Regions from separate parts of the Homo sapiens genome. Here region 1 is linked to region 2. The links come from fine-mapping of genetic effects on gene expression. A gene starts in region 2. The other region holds a variant in brackets. All regions are shown on one strand. Distances are from middle to middle.

Region 1 (5,379 bases), 230 kb before region 2:
AATCTGGACTCAAATTACTATTATGCCCCATCATACTTTTTGTTGAGATGCCAGTAGGTTATTTAACAGTAATAGCATTTAGATCAATGTTGTCACATTCATTTCAAAGCAGCCCAACTTTTTCCACCCTCTTTTTGGTCTTCATCACCCTTCATCCCACACACACCTTATTTTTCTTTTACTTATTACAGTTCATTTTATCAAAACCAGTTTGAAAATCAAATATTGAATGCAAAAGCTAGGAAGCTGTAAACAGGAAACGTAAACGAGAAAGAACAAGCAGTGAATACGAGTAAGAGAATGTTCCTATGTGGTATGCTTTCTGATCACTTCAGCTCCCAATTTATTAATATTCAGTTGCTATAATAAGGCCTCTAAAGGTATTAGAGCCATAAACAGCTTTGAGATCTAGAGAAGCCAAGGAGATCAGGTGAGCCTAGGTCTTTCCTTGCCTCAAGCAATGCTTCCTCCCTGAGGTCAGAACCAGCACCACCATCCTTTCTATTCTTGTCTCTAATTTCTCTATTGATTTAATATAGGATGCTGTGAGTGTACTGGATACTCCTGTCCCTCTGATCTTTTAGAGACAGAGTCTCTTTCTCTCACCCAGACTGGAGTGCAATAGTGCCATCATAGCTCAGTGCAGTCTCCAAGTCCTGGGCTCAAGCAATCCTCCCACCTCAGTGGCTGGGACCACAGGTGCACACCACCACACCTGGCTAATTTTTTTAAGCAGAGATGAGGTCTTACTATGTTGCCCAGGCTGGTCTTAAACTGGCCTCCCGAAGTGCTGGGATTACAGGCATGAGCCACCATGTCCAGCCTGAATATCTGATCTTATAAAAGAATTTCCTTAAAAGGGATCCTTAACTTTTTTAAAAAAAAAGTTTTTAAACTGAATAAAATGGTATAAAATTTAAAGGTACCAAAGGGCTAAGTAAAAATAATTATTCCTCCTACCTTGTCACCTTCTGTAGAGACAGTCACCATCCATTAAGTTCTTCCCTCCTATCAGAGATTTCATGTGTGTGTAGGTGGGAGATACACTAGCATCTTGGGTTTCACACTTAATCAAATTTCAGAAGTGATGTAGCCATACACACAGAGGCCCATTGTTCTTTTTTCCTTTGAGACAGAGTCTCACTCTCGCCAGGCTAGAGTGCAGTGGCAGAATCTCAGCTCACTGCAACCTCCGCCTCCTGGGTTCAAGTGGTTCTCCTGCCTCAGCCTCCCAAGTAGCTGAGGCGTACACCACCACGCCCAGCTAATTTTTGTATTTTTAATAGAGACGGGGTGTCATCATGTTGGCCAGGATGGTGTCGATCTCTTGACTTCATGATCCACCCACCTTGGTCTTCCAAAGTGTTGGAATTACAGGCGTGAGCCACCGCGCCTGGCCTTGGTCCATTGTTCTTTACAATTGCGTAGTATATCACTGTGGACAAGTCATAATATATTTAACTAGTCCCCTGTTGGCAGATATTTAAATCGCTTGTAGTTGGAAAAGATTAGAACTAGTCATACAAGGAATATCCTTGTGGATACATCATTTTCTGATCTATGTGAGTCTGTCTGAAGGCCAGTGTACTTCTGAGCCAAATCTTGTGGCAGTATAAATTTTGACAACTACCGTTAAATGTCAGAGATGTTGTAAAGGTGAAAAGTTCCACAAGCAATATCCCTTGCTAACTCAGTGTTATCAAAACCAGTGGGTTTTATCTTTGCCTGCAAGAGAGGTAAAAAATATTTCAATATAGTTTAAATTGTCATTTCTTATATTAGGAATGGAGTTGAGAATATTCTTATATGTCTATATCATTATATTTTTCTGTGACTTACCTATATTCTGGCATCTTTATCAGTTTGTTGATCTCTGTATCTATTGGAGGATATAGTCCTTTGTCTGAGATGGTTTGCAGATGTCCTCCCCCTACCTCAGTTTATTGACTTCTGAGTTTGCTTAAAGTGTTTTCTCCGCTTAAGAGTTTAAACTTGCATTTTATGGCTTCTTAGTTTTGTGTCATATGTAGAAAGGACTTTGCTGTTCCAACATTTAAAAATTCTCGTGTTTTAGTATTTTTTTTTAATTTATTTTTTTATTGATAATTCTTGGGTGTTTCTCACAGAGGGGGATTTGGCAGGGTCATGGGACAATAGTGGAGGGAAGGTCAGCAGATAAACAAGTGAACAAAGGTCTCTGGTTTTCCTAGGCAGAGGACCCTGCGGCCTTCCGCAGTGTTTGTGTCCCTGATTACTTGAGATTAGGGATTGGTGATGACTCTTAACGAGCATGCTGCCTTCAAGCATCTGTTTAACAAAGCACATCTTGCACCGCCCTTAATCCATTTAACCCTGAGTGGACACAGCACATGTTTCAGAGAGCGCAGGGTTGGGGGTAAGGTCACAGATCAACAGGATCCCAAGGCAGAGGAATTTTTCTTAGTGCAGAACAAAATGAAAAGTCTCCCATGTCTACTTCTTTCTACACAGACACGGCAACCATCCGATTTCTCAATCTTTTCCCCACCTTTCCCGCCTTTCTATTCCACAAAGCCGCCATTGTCATCCTGGCCCGTTCTCAATGAGCTGTTGGGCACACCTCCCAGACGGGGTGGTGGCCGGGCAGAGGCGCCCCTCACCTCCCGGACGGGGCGGCTGGCCGGGCAGGGGGCTGACCCCCCCACCTCCCTCCTGGACGGGGCGGCTGGCCGGGCAGAGGGGCTCTTCACGTCCCAGTAGGGGCGGCCGGGCAGAGGCGCCCCTCACCTCCCAGATGGGGTGGCTGGCCGGGCGGGGAGCTGACCCCCCCACCTCCCTCCCGGACGGGGCGGCTGGCCGGGCAGAGGGGCTCCTCACTTCCCAGTAGGGGCGGCCGGGCAGAGGCGCCCCTCACCTCCCGGACGGGGCGGCTGGCCGGGCAGGGGGCTGACCCCCCCACCTCCCTCC[C/T]GGACGGGGCGGCAGAGACGCTCCTCACCTCCCAGACGGGGTCGTGGCCGGGCAGAGGCGCTCCTCACATCCCAGATGGGGCGGCGGGGCAGAGGCGCTCCCCACGTCTCAGACGATGGGCGGCCGGGCAGAGACGCTCCTCACTTCCTAGATGTGATGGCGGCCGGGAAGAGGTGCTCCTCACTTCCCAGGTGGGATGGCGGCCGGGCAGAGACGCTCCTCACTTTCCAGACTGGGCAGCCAGGCAGAGGGGCTCCTCACATCCCAGACGATGGGCGGCCAGGCAGAGACACTCCTCACTTCCCAGACGGGGTGGCGGCCGGGCAGAGGCTGCAATCTCGGCACTTTGGGAGTCCAAGGCAGGCGGCTGGGAGGTGTAGGTTGTAGCGAGCCGAGATCACGCCACTGCACTCCAGCCTGGGCACCATTGAGCACTGAGTGAACGAGACTCCGTCTGCAATCCCGGCACCTCGGGAGGCCGAGGCTGGCGGATCACTCGCGGTTAGGGGCTGGAGACCGGCCTGGCCAACACAGCGAAACCCCGTCTCCACCAAAACCAGTCAGGCGTGGTGGCGCGTGCCTGCAATCGCAGGCACTGGGCAGGCTGAGGCAGGAGAATCAGGCAGGGAGGTTGCAGTGAGCCGAGATGGCAGCAGTACAGTCCAGCTTTGGCTCCGCATGAGAGGGAGACCGTGGAAAGAGAGGGAGACGGTGGGGAGAGGGAGAGGGGGAGGGAGAGGGGGAGAGGGAGAGGGAGTTCTAGTACTTTTATCATTCCATTTTTTAAGATTTTAAAATCTTTTTTTAAGTTTTAAGATTAAATCATTGCTCTGTCTGGACTTTAGTAAATCAGGTTTGAAGCAGGGATTCAACTTTATTTTTCCAGCTGGTTACCCAGTGGCCTATCATTTATTGAGTAAATAGCCAACTTCCACCCTTGTGTTTTAAAAATGTAACTAGGGCCGGGCACAGTTGCTCATGCCTGTAATCCCAACACTTTGGGAGGCCGAGGTGGGCAGATCAGCTGACGTCAGGAGTTTGAGACCAACCTGGCCAACGTGGTGAAACCCTGTCTCTACTAAAACTACAAAAATTAGCTGGGCATGATGGCAGGCACCTGTAATCCCAGCTACTCAGGAGGCTGAGGCAGGAGAATTGCTTGACGCCGGGAGGTGGAGGTTGCAGTGAGCTGAGATCATGCCATTGCACTCCAACCTGGGTGAGAGTGAGACTCCATCTCAAGAAAAATAAAACACACAATTGGGGCAGCTACTGAGTATGTTTCTTTGTCTTGCTGCTTCATAGGACTTTCCCCTAATATCCCTCTCATGCTGATATCCCTCTGTTGGCCATTTTCTCCCCAGGTTTTCTAAAGTGTGACACTATATACCTGAGCCCTCAGCCCTTAAAAGGCTCACCTCCATAGCAGTGACTGATACATTTTGGGTTGGGATATATGTAATGTTGAAAACCATCTGATGGAAGTATCAATTTAGTTCTGACTGCTGACAGAAATTGAGAGAAAATGTTGAATAGTTTTGTCATGCCACAAAATGAAAAGCCTGCCCAATAATAAAATTAGATTGACTAACAGCGAGAAAACCAGCAAGAACATAAGCTGAGGGCCATTGGCTGGATAATTTGGTATCTACATTGGCATATGGGCTGATATTTGGGGACTTTATAACATTCCTTTAAAAGAAAACAAGAGGACATCACTTTTCACATTAGATCTCCCACTCAAGAGGAATTAGCAACATTCCCTGGGTTATCTTACTGACGAAGCCCTGGCTTTATATATACAGATATAAATATTAAAGACAAAAGGTCTAAAAATGATATAAAAATAAAGCATCAAACCAATGTATGAGGCACTGATGGTTTTGCTTAGGGACTTTGCTTAGGAATGGGAAACCAGGTTGTGATGATCAGTAGCATGGCAGGGCAGTTGTCTTTGAGACGGTGACAGCATGAACCAAGACTTGAGGAAGGAGAGGTAACTGGTCATTATCCTAATCCTATAGGAATCATCTTGGTTCTAATTTGATAATTTACTTTTTGTTAAATTAAGAATCCCTATTAGGGACATAGGGGAATGCCAAAGAGATGATAAAAGCCCTCAACAGTTTTTTAAGAATTAAAAGTCTTAGACTTTTCTCTTTTTGCCCTTGAAATAGACTAATGGAGTATTTAGTTTGTTTGGGTTACAGCCCAGCATTGTAGAGATGGGGTCTCACCATGCTGGCCAGGCTGGTCTCGAAAGAAAGCCTGGAAAACCAACCTGGAGTTCAAACTCAGTCACTGTCAGGAGGAGTTGACTATGTGATAGTGGAGTCAGCAAACAAAACAGACAAAAGTCTCTACCTTTGTGGAGCTCGCATTTTTACTAGGAGGGTGGGTGAGGGAGATCATGACAATAAGCAAGCATTAGTC
Region 2 (5,379 bases):
GAAGATTGTGATAATTAAAGATGACACTATAAACTTTAAAGTAACCACTAAAAAAAGAAGAAGTTATATCTAATAAGCCAACATGAGAGATAAAATGGAAACATAAAAACTGTGCTCAACTGAAAAGAAGAGGGAAAAAGAGGAAAAAGAACAAGAACAAATGTGACAAATGAAAAACACATAGCAAGATTAAAACTAAACATACTAAATAATCAGATTAAATATAAATGGCCCGAACACCCCAATTAACTGCAGAGATAGTCAGATTGGATAAAAAAACAAGACCCAACCAAACACTGACTACAAGAAGCCCACTTATATAAAGACACCAATAGGCTAAAACTAAAACTATAGAAGAAATATCTGTCATGCTAATGTTAATCAAAAGAAAGTTGGAGTAGCTATATTAATACCAGACTAGTAGATTTCAGAGCAAAGTATATAATCAAGGATAAAGAAAATCATTTAATAATGATAAAGGGGTCCATTCATAAAGGTATAATACAGTCCTAAACATTTATACACACAATAAGTTTCAGCCCACCAAAACAAGAAAACACAAAGATGCCTTTCATGCAGTATCAGTATTCCTGTACCAAACTGCATATTGCCAAAATAGGGCTTAAAATCTTCTTTATGTAATAAATGGCATGCAATTTTACTAATAAAAGTACAGTATCACCCAAAAGGGTCAAAGTCAGTAGTGTGTTAAACAGCTTATGAAAATATTTATGACTTGAGTGCCAAAATCTAAAGCTGACTCACCTTTCGTATTGCCTATCTCGTGGTAATGAAGCACTCCAATGTCGAAAGTCTATGATTAACATAAGTAAAAGGAGACAGGATATGAAGAAGAGTCCCAGGAATGCCACCCGCTGACGGAGAAATGGACTCACTGTGGGCACAGTGAAGTACCAGGAGGCTGGGCAGAGGTAGGAAAAACTGATCCTGAAATTAGACAAACATTAGTAAGTCTGAAACATTTCTACAACTGAGTGCTTAAATATCGTTTTAAAATTGGATAAAACCCTCCTAATAAAGGCAAAAATCCATGCCAACAGAAGTCTAAATGTTCTTGTCATCTCTAATTTTAGAAGAAGCTCATGGTGCTTCTACTATATATATCAGAAAAGCCTTATCTGCCCTTTTTCCAAACTGCACTTTGAGTGCAATTCAAAGACTTAATCTCATGTTAGTGAAAAGATCACCAGTCTCCCTGGGCAACCTCATAACATTGGAGAATCAGAGCAACTACAGTATTCCCAACCAAGAATTCTGTCAAGAAACAGGATGGTCAGAAAATTTATTTAACTGATTTTAAAAATGTTTTACCAGATTATACAAGCACATAGTAAAAGACAAATCAGTTTAAAAGGATATATTGTATAGTGAAAAGTGATTCTTGCCCTGACCCCACAATCTCTCAGAGGCAAACATTACTACCCAGTTGCTGTGTAATTTTTTTTTTTTTTGAGATGGAGTCTTGCTCTGTTGCCCAGGCTGGAGTGTAGTAGCGCAATCTCAGCTCACTGCAACCTCCACCTCCTGGGTTCAAGCGATTCTTCTCCCTCAGCCTCCCCAGTAGCTGGGATTACAGGTGACTGCCACCACACCCGGCTAATTTTCGTATTTTTAGTAGAGACCGGGTTTCTACTTGGCCAGGCTGGTCCTGAACTCCTGACCTCAGGTGATCTGCCTGCCTTGGCCTCCCAAAGTGCTGGGATTACAGGCGTGAGCTACTGCACCTGGCCGTTGCTGTGTATCTTTCCAGGGATATTCTACGGATACACAAGCATAAATATACACCAATATATTTACAGTAATATATCTCTGTGTGTGTGTGTGTGTGTGTGTGTGTGTGTGTGTGCGTATCCATTCCCTCGGTTTTACACAAATGGTAGTCCACCATACCTGCTGTTCTGCATCTTTCCCCCACTTTATTTTATAACTTTCCCTTATTGGTGCATGTAGATCCACATTAATATTTTTTAAAAGCTTCAGGTTATTATAATGTATGGATAAGTGTATTCATCTGTGAAGTTCACTTTGTATATTGATTCAAAAGGACCTCGGTCTGTCTGCTTTTAAAGTTCACTGCAAACAAAAAACAAAAAAACTTCTTTGTTTAACCTCCTCAAGTGGCACCTAGCCTTGCTCAGATGCGAATCTGAATCAATGTTACAACCTTGCACTTTACAGAGCTGAGCAAGCCGACTCACTCTACCACTCCTGGTCTATGGGCTAGAAACTATTATTTATCAGCCCTCGAAATAATACAACTTTGATCGTCTCTGCATCCAACTAACCAGAATACAAAGTCCAAGTGCAGCTCCAGGGCAAACCTCACTTGGGACAGCCTCCCAGGGCCCCCCAACCTGCCTGCCATCCTCTGCCGTGCTCCCAGCCGGAGGGAAAGTGTGCAGCCTTACCTAGCCATGGGTTCCCTTCGGTGGTCTCAACGCCTGTCACCTTCTTTTTCTTTTGCCCTGAGAAGGTGGCCTCCTTGTCCCAGGCATCTCCTACGTCTGCAGCCTAGAAAGATTTGATTTCAGGCTTCTGTCCGACTGAGCCCACGAGACAAACCTGCACGGGAATTCCACGGCTCCCACCTCCTCCCCAGGCTCCCGCTCCGTCTGCTCTGGTTCCTCAGGCCCAGGGGACCCTACCCGGGCATCCTGGGAGCGGGGCGTTCTCGTGGGCCAGCTCTGTCCTCTAGGAACCGGTCGTCCCCAGGTGGCGGGGTGTGGGTCCCGCTTCCTCTCCCCGTCCCTCCGGGTCCCACAGCCCTCTCGCGCCCACACTCACGGGATCAAGCGGCCCGCCGGTTCCTTCGGCACCTCTCGGTTCAGTCCCGAGCTGCTCCCCGCGGCCCCTTGCCCAGCCGGAAGGAGGGCCCGGCCGGCGGCGGCGCCACGTCCCCAAGGAAACCGCAGGGAGCCAATGACTGACAGAAGACTCACGGAGGGGCCGGCTCTCCACGAGCCGAACCGGGGGCGAACCAGCTCGGTCAGCAGCACGTCCGTCCGCCAGGGTGGCCAATCCCCTAGAGCGCTCGGCCTCTGATGCCCGCCCCGGGACTTTGAGCCGCGCCCAATCGGAAAGGCGTCGTACCGAGGCTCCGCCTGCAGGGCCCGCGGAGAGCTCACAGGTGAGTGGCGCTGGGCGGCCCTGTGCCCGCTTCCCTCCCTGGGGCGCGAACTCTCGGCTGGTTGCTTTCTCCACGGCCGCTCCTGGGACAGAGTAGCTCCGGTAGGTGGGTTCAGGGTGTTCGCGACCGAAGCGCATCCCTTGCCCATAACCTATTGTTGGTTTTGTGCCCACTGACCCTCCCTACCAGAATGGCAGTTCTCTCACCTTAAACCTTCCCTATCACCTCCCAAACTGATGCCCCGACCTCACTGTCTTGCCCCGTGAGAAAACAGAAATCGAAGACAATGACGTTTACACCAAAGTGCTTATGTCCATTCATTCATTCATTGAATGTCTGCTTATGCCAGTCATCATGAATTTCTGTGTCGCCGCCCTCCTTGACCTTACAGTAACACAAAGGAAACGACGCGCGCGCGTGGGTGTGTGTGTGTTTCTTTCTTGCTTACACCAGCCGTTATCTCATTTCCAGGAGGACGGCATAAAGTCCAAGCTCTTTCCAACGTGGCACATCCATTGCGCCCCACGATCCGCCCTACCGCCGTCCTCTGCCGCTACTTGCCTTCCTTACCACGCTCCAGCAACGCGTCCTGTTTTGCTCATTCTGCCCCTCCACCTGCCTTGAATAACCGTCCCAGCCTCTTAGCCAAATCACCTCCTACTCATCCCTTACCACCCATCTTAAGGGTCGCCTTCCCCTAAAAGCCCTACTTGACCTACTACACCTTTTTTATACATGCCTATTGTTTCACTTAGCACGTTGAATTACTATTATACGTATATGTCTGTCTGTCTGTCCCACTAGACAGAATATCCTTGAAGGCAGGGACTATTTGCTTCCACATATTCCCAATACTGGCCACTGCCTGGCAGATAAAACACAACTAATGTATAATTAATAAGCAAATGAATGAATGGGGGGGATCGGGGAGGAAGACCACCCAAATGCTTTATTTATTCAAAGCTTACTATGACAAGGGAGTCAGTCACCATCACTTGCATTTGGCCGACTCAAAGCCTGTCAGGACATTAGGAAAACTACTTACTTACTTAATTACCTACAGGGTCTCACTCTGTTGTCATCCAGGCTGGAGTGCAGTGGTGCGATCGTGGTTCACTGCAGCCTCGACCTCCTGAGCAAGCGATCCTCCCACCTCAACCTCCTGAGTAGCTGGCTCTACAGGCACGTGCCACCATGCCCAGCTTATTTTTTTTTAATTCTTTGTAGAGATGGAGTCTCACTATGTTGTCCAGGCTGGTCTTGAACTCCTGGGCTCAAGCAGTCTTCCTGTCTCAGCCTCCCAAAGTGCTGGGATTACAGGGATGAGCAGCTGCACCTGGCCAGGAAAGCTTAGTAGTGAACAAAAAGGGAAGGTTTCATGTATACTCTGACTTGAGGGTATTAGCATGGGAAAGCTGGAGGTGGGCTAACAAAAGTAGTGTCTCTTAGGTGATTGGTTTGGGGTAGGTAGCATATTTGGCTGTCTTTAGTGGGTTCTGAGTTGAAGAAAGGAGGCGGCAAAAAACAGGGAAACTGAGTCATTGACCAAGTCCTGATTATTCTCGGCTGGTTGCTGTAGAGGTTGTGGGTCAGAGTTCTAATTGTCATATAAGATCTAGCCATTGTCCAGTTTCTATATTCAGTTCTCATGACTATTGTTTTTTTGGCTCCACTACTCTCCTAACCTTGTTGAACTTCCTAATTTGCCTTTCTTCTTCAATTCTCAGTTCTCAGTTTTTTTTTCTCTGTCCCTCAATCCCCACTCTGCTTCAAGTGTTATATTTTATCTGGACCCCCAGAAACCACATTGAATAGAATAGTTGCATAAAGTTGGGATTAACCACAACATTATACAGATACCAGTTATTTTTATTATTTCAGAACCCAGTTCAGTTCCTAGAACAAAATAGATATGGAAAGAACTAAAATAATGTTTTGGAGTAATTTTTAAAAATTTCTTGAATTTACCTTCTGTGAGTTCTAAGTCTAATCTCTATACATATATATTTCAAACTTTAGTGTTCCACAAAATAGGTGTTTTTGAGTGGAAGTATAATTCCTATTTTTAAAATAGTACTTAATTCCTATGGTTTATGAACTATATTAACTTATAATTCAAAAGTTCATTGAAACATCCTCTAATTTACATTTCATAACTACATCATAAAACAGAAAAGACCTACATTTTAATCCCAACATTTTTTCATTATATTTTCTTTGTAAAACTTTCT

Evidence for each region. PIP is the estimated chance that this variant, and not a neighbour inherited with it, causes the effect.
Region 1: its variant is fine-mapped to the expression of ENTPD7 in tibial nerve (GTEx, PIP 0.97).

The regions. Positions count from the first base shown.
Region 1 is chr10:99,889,474-99,894,852 of GRCh38, reverse strand. All of the region lies in intron 11 of DNMBP (dynamin binding protein), which reads left to right. Among named protein-coding and RNA genes, the nearest start is that of DNMBP-AS1, 35 kb to the left of the region's middle. RefSeq lists an enhancer at 2,866-3,725. The variant C/T (reference allele first, on the strand shown) is at 2,947.
Region 2 is chr10:99,657,015-99,662,393 of GRCh38, reverse strand. ENTPD7 (ectonucleoside triphosphate diphosphohydrolase 7) reads right to left here and starts at 2,885. Exons shown (of 13, transcript NM_020354.5): 1 at 2,806-2,885; 2 at 2,430-2,532; 3 at 766-948. The coding sequence starts at 2,437. It also overlaps a transcript of SLC25A28 not described here. RefSeq lists silencers at 2,657-2,876, 2,997-3,206.